Linked DNA regions of Homo sapiens. Each later gene encodes a partner of the first gene's protein in a complex. Each region holds a gene or a part of one and is shown on either strand. Other genes may lie near its edges. The genes, in order: LDLRAP1 and AP2B1.

Evidence for each region.
Region 2: the proteins of LDLRAP1 (region 1) and AP2B1 are in contact, whole or in part, in a crystal structure (PDB 2G30), measured with the Homo sapiens proteins. Residues at the interface, in NP_056442.2 of Homo sapiens: Asp253, Leu255, Asp256, Ala258, Phe259, Ser260, Leu262, Ala263, Gln264, Arg266, Thr267; in NP_001273.1 of Homo sapiens: Arg834, Gln835, Phe837, Leu838, Trp841, Glu849, Gln851, Ile876, Ala877, Arg879, Val881, Glu882, Gln884, Met886, Tyr888, Glu902, Arg904, Ser915.

What each region holds. Positions count from the first base shown.
Region 1 is NC_000001.11:25,541,264-25,545,175, forward strand, and holds the start of LDLRAP1 (low density lipoprotein receptor adapter protein 1), read left to right. Parts: upstream 1-2,342; 5' UTR 2,343-2,435; coding exon 2,436-2,523; intron 2,524-2,687; exon of another isoform or gene 2,688-3,078; intron 3,079-3,912. UniProt on the Homo sapiens protein: Adapter protein (clathrin-associated sorting protein (CLASP)) required for efficient endocytosis of the LDL receptor (LDLR) in polarized cells such as hepatocytes and lymphocytes, but not in non-polarized cells (fibroblasts).
Region 2 is NC_000017.11:35,590,123-35,594,034, reverse strand, and holds part of AP2B1 (AP-2 complex subunit beta), read right to left. Parts: intron 28-3,912; 5' UTR 5-27; coding exon 1-4. UniProt on the Homo sapiens protein: Component of the adaptor protein complex 2 (AP-2). Adaptor protein complexes function in protein transport via transport vesicles in different membrane traffic pathways.

The DNA.
Region 1 (3,912 bases):
TCTCTCTACTATTCCAGAATCTAGCTGGCTTGGGATAAGTGAGCTGGGGGCACTCAGCCCTGTGGACCCATCTACCTATTGCCACAGCCCTTTTGCAGAAGGCAGCCTGGTTTGGTGAAAAGCTGGAGAAAGGGAGAAGGGGAGGAAAGGAGGGAGGAAGGACAGGAACACTGACTGTGTTCCAACTCCATTTGGACCCCTTACTAGGCATTTGGGATTCAGAAATGAATCAGAAAAACTTCCTGCTTTTGGAGGGTACAAAGTCTAATGGAGATGAGAGGAGTATAAACAGGCAGCAGTAGTGCTTGCAATCCTGAAAGTTCAGGACTGTGGGCGCCCACAAAGAGAAACTTAATCCATGGGTGGTAGTCAGGGAAGCCTTCCTGGAGGAGGCAACTTTAAAGGTGGGTTCTCAAGAACAGGATTCAGCCATTCCAACTCCTGTTATTTAGTCCTTAAGGACAGCCCTGTGAAATAGATATAGTTGTCCCTTTTACAGATGAGGCTCAGAAGGGTGAGTTCACAACCACCAGAAGGACAGCTGGGTTCTAACCCCTGGCATTATACTCTACCCCATTGCCTATGGGCCTGAGTCTGATCCCAGTCTCTGACTCTCGGAGACTATCAGTGAATGCTTCCCTCCCTGACCTAGGGCTGTCATCTGTAAAGTGGGTCCACCTAAGCAGTGTTGCTGGGGAAGCCAAGGACAGACTGGCTAACAAAGCACTTGGTTTATAAACAGGGGAATGTCAGTGAGGCCGCCCTATCCAGCTGGGGACAGCACAGCACTATCTTTCTCCCGACACAGAGAGGACTGCTGGCTTCTGAGCCAGGAGTAATTACAGAGGTTGAAGTTGGCCTTGCCTGAGGCACCCCCTTCTAAAAGAAGCCAGGCTGTGGCTTGGATGTGTGTGTCCTCCCTCTGGCTCCTTTTGGCACAGTTTGAAAGGAAGGCATGGCATCCTAGAGAGTTAGAACAAATCCTTCCAATCCTGGAGTTAGAACATCTGTGCCTGAGCAATTCTGGGGTTCAGACTGCCCTCCGAATGCTCCTAGGAAGCAGCTTGGGGTCAGGGTCAAGGTCATGCAGATTCTTGACCCTGGCAGGTTGGAAGGATCACTAGAGATAGCATTGACTCTCATTCACAGATAAACAAGACTCAGAGAGGGGAAGTACTTGCCTGAGGTCACACAGCAAGTCAGTGTCAGGGGCACGTTCCAGATCATACCATCTGTGAGGCTACCTGGGAAGTTGCGGGGGCATGGGGTGGCCCAGCATGCTCAGGTGGTGCCAGGGAGCAGCCTGGGAGCTACGAGGATGAGTAAAGTGCCTGGCTGGACTTGCTAAAGGCAAATTTTTATATACCGACCCTGCGCCTAACAAGGGTCTATACTGCAAGCTTGTCCAACCTGTGGCCCACTGGCCATGTGAGGTCCAGGACGGCTTTGAATGGAGCCCAACACAAATTGGTAAAGGTTCTTAAAACATTATGAGATTTTTTTGGGCAGGGTGTGGTGGCTCACAGCCATCCCAGCACTTTGGGAGGCTGAGGCGGGCAGATCACTTGAGGTCAGGAGTTCGAGACCAGCCTGGCCAACATGGTAAAACTCCATCTCTATTAATAATACAAAAATTAGCCAGGCATGGTGGTGCATGCCTGTAATCCCAGCTACTCGGGAGGCTGAGGCATGAGAATAGCTTGAACCCGGGAGGTAGAGGTTGCAGTGACCCGAGATCGCACCACTGCACTCCAACCTGGGCAACAGAGTGAAACTCTGTCTCAGGGGAAAAAAAACAATACAGAAAAACAAAAAACATGAGTGTGTGTGTATATATATATATTTCAGCTCATCAGCTGTCGTTAGTGTTAGTGTATTTCATGTGTGGCCCAAGACACTTCTTCTTCCAATGTGGCCTAAGGAAGCCAAAAGTTTGGATATCCCTGGCTTACAGCCTCCACTATTTCCTAAGTCTCCCACTGCCCTGGACATCGCATTGCTTTTGTCCCTGAACAAGATCTTTCACCACTGGAGGAGCCCTCAGTCTCCCCATCTGTAAAATGGTCACTGGAAATCCTAGGCCGCTGCTCTCAGGCCCTCAGGCCCCTACGGGGTGGGGATTGGGGAAAAGGAGGAAAGCGGGGGCGTCTAGGGCTTGCGATTTGCTATCTTCTGGCGCCTTCGGGCGGCCTCGGAAACTCTTGGTGCCTGGACCTGGAGCCTGGACAGGGACCGGGCGGGGCGAGACCGGCCGTCGGGGGCGCGGCCCGTCTGGGGGCGGGGCCTGTCCTCTCTCGCCCCGCCCCGTCGGACGCCGCGGCGGAGCTGGCGCTGGGAGGGGAGGAGCGCGCAGCCCGCGCGCCGCAGGGCCGGGCGGAAAGTTTTTCCTGACGGAGTTTTGGCTGCGGCAGCGGCGGCGGCGGCCGGAGCGGGCCATGGACGCGCTCAAGTCGGCGGGGCGGGCGCTGATCCGGAGCCCCAGCTTGGCCAAGCAGAGCTGGGGGGGCGGTGGCCGGCACCGCAGTGAGTGTGCGCGCGTCAGCCGGGCCGGGCCGGGATCGGGCAGAGGCGCGCGGGGCCTCCGCGGGCGCCCGGAGTGCGGCCAAGTTGGGCAGAGGCGGGGCCTCACCGGCGCTCCGGTCCCGGCGTGGCCCTTTCCCGGCCCTGCGGGGCAGGGGGTCGGCCGGGGTCAAGTTGTGCACCTACTCGCCGGCCGCTCGATGCCGCTGCGAGGAGGGGCAGCGCTGAGGAAGGAGCCCGAGCTCGGGGTCCTCAGGTGCAGCCGGCATGGGGTGGGGTGCAGGTTGGGAGAAGAGGCCCCCGCCACCCGCGGCACCTCCCGCCCTGCTGTCCTGGCCAGCTAGGGGGAGGCAGGCGCTCGTCGTCGGTGCCTAGGGGAGGAGGAGAGGGCGCAGGGGCTTGGGAAGACGCCCCCGTCCCGCACCCCTGCGCCCCAGCCAGCAGCTGCGGCGGTCAGGAGCCCACTGGCCCGTTCTCCCGCCCCCTGCCCGACCCACCGGGCCAACTTTTGACTCCGGGTGCCCAGACACCCATCCAGGTGTGAGCCCGGGGTCGCAGGTACGTACTTGAAATTGGGAACGAGGCCCCGCCTGGGGTGCCTCGGGAGAGCCCCACATCAGGCGATCTAGACCCTTACGTCCCTTCCTCTAGCCGGGTCCAGGTGGCAAGCCTGGCGTCCCGACTATTTTTGAAACCTGTTTTCTCTCGCACCTTTCCCCTCGGGCTTCCAGAGTCCCTTGGGTGCCCAGGCAAACGACAGACTCGCCGCCACCTCTCCCTGGGGCGTCTGGGAGGCTGGGAGGGGCCTCCCCCCCTTTCTCTCCCCCAGTCTCTGATTACGCTCAGGGAACTTGTCACCTGGCACCTTCCCCTGAAGCCAGAAGACCCAGCCTAGCGCAGGTCTCGTTGTTTGGGAGGGAGAAGAGAGTGGCTTGCCTGGGGTCACACACACCTTCCTGCTGGTTTTGGAGCCAGAGCCCAGGACTGCTGCACACTCCCACCTCCCTGCCACCTACTTCGGGCCACAGCTTCTCCCCTCATCAGGAAACAACTGACAGTACAGCACCCCCTCATCCCATCCCCTCTTGGCCTTACAGGGCTCTGCCAGGGGAGCCCGAGCTCCCTGGTCCAAGGAGTGCCAGCGTGTCTGGGCCTAGAGGGCCCGCCTCCCTCCTCCTCTGGCCCCACTCTGTTGTTCAGCTGTGGCCGCCTCCCAGCTGAGACTGGCATTGGCATTGGGAATGTGGGGTGGTGCCTGCTGGTGGGGGGTGGGGTCAGAGACCCATTAGGGCTGGGCCACTAGGCCAGGGGATGTACCGTTTATCACACTGATTGCATCCCAAAATAGACCCTTTAAAAACTGGCAAGATTTGACCAGGACTTCTGAGATGG
Region 2 (3,912 bases), on another chromosome or scaffold:
TCATGACTTTGGATCTTTAATGTGCACCTATAGCAAGAGAAAAGAATTCCTTCATTCAGGTTATAGATATCCAACAAGGCATCCAATTAATTTTAAGAACATCCAATTAATTTTAGGAACACTTATATTTAAGAATTTCTAAAAATGAGTATCATCTTCCTTTATCACCACCGTTGATGGTTCAAGAAAAACTAAGAATGTAACTCCTCAAGCTAATGGGGCAAAAATCTAAAGGCCAAATGCAACTGGGTAAAAGTATGAACCTATTATGGCTTTGTGATTTTATCCACAGTAACTCCTCAAAGCTTTCAAGAGCTAAAGCTGGACCTTTTTATAAATATATCTGCAATTACTTTCCATTCAGGAAAATCTGGTAACTTCCTTGCCTCAAGCTGGAATCACTCCAAAACATATATTCTGAAGCAGTGTAAGGTCAAAAGAAAAAACAATTTTGCCGATCTATGACATGAAACTTTCAATAAAAAGAATCTCTTTCAGAAAAAAAAAATTCAAAATTAGTAGGACAATATTCTTTCACAACAAACATCTAGAGAGGCAACCATGACTTATGCATGGAATTTTTTTAATTTTTAGTTTTGTGGGTATTTAGTAGGTGCGTATAGGTACATGAGATATTTTGATAACAGGCAGACAATGCATAATAATTACATTAGTGTAAATGGGATATCCATCACCTCAAGCATTTATCCTTTCTTTGTATTATAAACAATTCAATTACATTCTTTTAGTTATTTTTAAATGTACAGTAAATTATTGTTGACCGCAGTCACCCTTTTGTGCTATCAAATACTAGATCTTATTCATTGTATCTAACTATATTTTTGGATTTAAAAAAAAATGTGGCTTTCTTACTTCCAACAATCCAGATTTAGCCCAAGAGTATTCCCAAATAATGCCAGTTTATAGTTAAAAACAAGGCAAAAGACTGAGACATCCGTTCAGACACGAGAATCAAACTGGTGTTGAAACAAAAGAACGTGGATCTCAACCTCAACCTTAACTCTTCCATCCCAATTTCCAGAAGAAGTAATCCAGATGACAAATGGCTCTACTAACAAAAACGGCACAGTCTGGTCACATTTTTACTAAATAATAAGACTACTTTTTCTGATTTGAGAAACTATAAGACTTTGTCCAATGTACCAGACTTCTTTAAATATATTAAAATTTTGGGGCCAGGCACAGTAGCTCACGCCTGTAATCCCAGCACTTTGTGAGGCTGCCGGGTGGATCACTTGAGGTCAGGAGTTCAAGACCAGCCTCGCCAACATGGTGAAATCCTGTCTCTGCTAAAAATACAAAATTTAGCTGGGCATGGTGGCACGTGCCTTTAATCCCAGCTACTTGGGAGGCTGAGGCAGGAGAATCGCTTGGACCTGGGAGGCGGAAGCTGCAGTAAGCCGAGATCACGCCACTGCACTCCAGCCTGGGCAACAGAGCAAAAGTCCATCTCAAATAAATAAATAAATAAATAGGAATTTGGGCCAGGCGCGGTGGCTCAGGCATGGTGGCATGTACCTGTAGTCTCAGCTACTTGGGAGGCTGAGGTGTGTGGATCGCTTGAGCTTAGGAGATCAAGGCTACAGGGAGCTATGATCTCACCACTGCACTCCAGCCTCAGCGACAGAGACCTTGTCTCAAGGGGAAAAAAATATATAAATATACATATATTTTTTAATAATATTCCTTCTGTACTCAAAATGAGTATCTTTTTCCTTATCACCATCACTAATAATACTTATCACCAACTTCAGGACAAGACATGCTGGCACCTGCTCATTATTATCAGGTCAATATGACATAATGTATTTGGCAAACAATAGTAAATATGGATCTAGGAGAAAAGACCTAAGCACCAAACAAATCAATGTAATTAAAGAAAAGAAAAAAGAGCCAGATAAACATAAAATAATGAAAAACTTCTGGTTCAAATCTGATCTCTAAAACGTGCTACTTGTACAGTTTAATGGAAATTAGACTCATTTGCTATCTTTCCAACCAGCTAATTACTATTTATAGTCTTGATCCTAATAGCTCTTTAGATTGTACCAGAAATTCACAGAATGATCTTGTTAAAAGAAGTGAGCTAGGACTCACAAATATCATTACAGAATATAGAAATTTCTCCTTTAATACTTGTTATAATTAAAAATTATACTGAAGCTTGCCTTATGCAATGTTTTTACAATGTGTTTCTAGCAAAAATTCAAAGAATGTTATAATCATTTAGTCCATTCATAATGTAAACTAAATGTGAAGTGGGCAAATGAAGAAAGGAATTCTTCACATAAAAGACCTGGAATAAATCTGAAGTTATTTATGAATGTATATATACAAACAGAAAAACCAGTAAACAGAAACGATTACTTGAGCCTCAAAGAAGGACTATAGCTCAAATCCATTACAATCTGTCTAGGATATTTACTATGCTATGCTATGTCCTTTAAAACTTGTTTAAGATTTTAAAACAAAACCTCCTTAGAATTTGTCACCCAATTTCTCTGAAAAGCCTCTTATACATACACATATTAAATTTTTTTTGGCCAGGCACGGTGGCTCACGCCTGTAATCCCAACACTTTGGGAGGACGAGGCGTGCGGATGGCTTGAGCTCAGGAGATCGAGACCAGTCTGGGGAACGTGGCGAAACTCCGTCTCTAATAAAAATACAAAAATTAGCCGGGCATGGTAGCACATGCCTGTAGTCCCAGCTGGGACTCACTGCAACATCTGCCTTCTGGGCTCAAGCAATCCTCCTGCCTCAGCCTCCCGAGTAGCTGGGACTACATGTTGGGATCACCGTGCCCAGCCCATTAAATTCTTTTTTTTTTTTTTTTTTTTTTGAGACAAAATCTCACTGTGGCCCAGGCTCCAGTGCAGTGGTTCAATTTGGGCTCACTCCAACCTTTGCCTCCCAGGTTCAAGTGATTCTCCTGCCTTAGCCTTCAGAGTAGCTGGGACTACAGGCACCCACTACCACGCCCAGCTAATTTTTGTATTTTAGTAGAGACAGGGTTTTTCCTTGTTAGCCAGGCTGGTCTGGAACTCCTGACATCAAGTTATCCATCCACCTCGGCCTCCCAAAGTGCTGGGATTACAGGCATGAGTAAATTCTTAACAGGCATTTTCACTACATTCTATTAAACAATAAATTAACCTAAGTCTTAAGTCATACCTTTATCAGTAGCTCACATATTTCATTATCTCCCCTAACAATTTCAATGTCAAGGAATATATTACTATCCTGTTCACTGTGAGCATTAAGTGTTCTTGTCTTAACTAGAAAATAATGCACCCACCCACAAAATTTCAGGGAAGAGAGGAGGGTCAAGTATCTTTAGAAGCCTATAAGATAGATTCTAAATTAAGAGTCCCTGCTGCTCTAAAGAGAAGGGATATCACTCTAGTAACCATATTGTAAACAATAGTAACAAAATATTCCCTAACCATATTGGCAGAGAAACATGGTGCCAAGCTGGTTCTTGCCTTAAGCCAAAAGAAACTCCAAGAAAAATGAAAATAGTGTAAATAAAAACAAATCAGAAGACATGATTGTTGCACAACACTGTCAGTGTACTAAATGCCACTGAACTGTATGCCTTAACCTGGTTAATTTTATGGTACGTGAATTTCACCTCAAAAAAAAATCACATATATATATGATTCAGTGTATCTCTCATATAATGAGTTCTCACCTCATATAATGAGAGATACACTTAATCACATGCTAGATATGGACATAGCCAGAGTCTCCAAAATACAGGATGGCAAAAACTGACGTCTTCATTAGAAGTTACAGCCGGTCGCGGTGGCTCACGCCTGTAATCCCAGCACTTTGGGAGGCGGGCGGATCACAAGGTCAGGAGATCGAGACCATCCTGGCTAACACGGT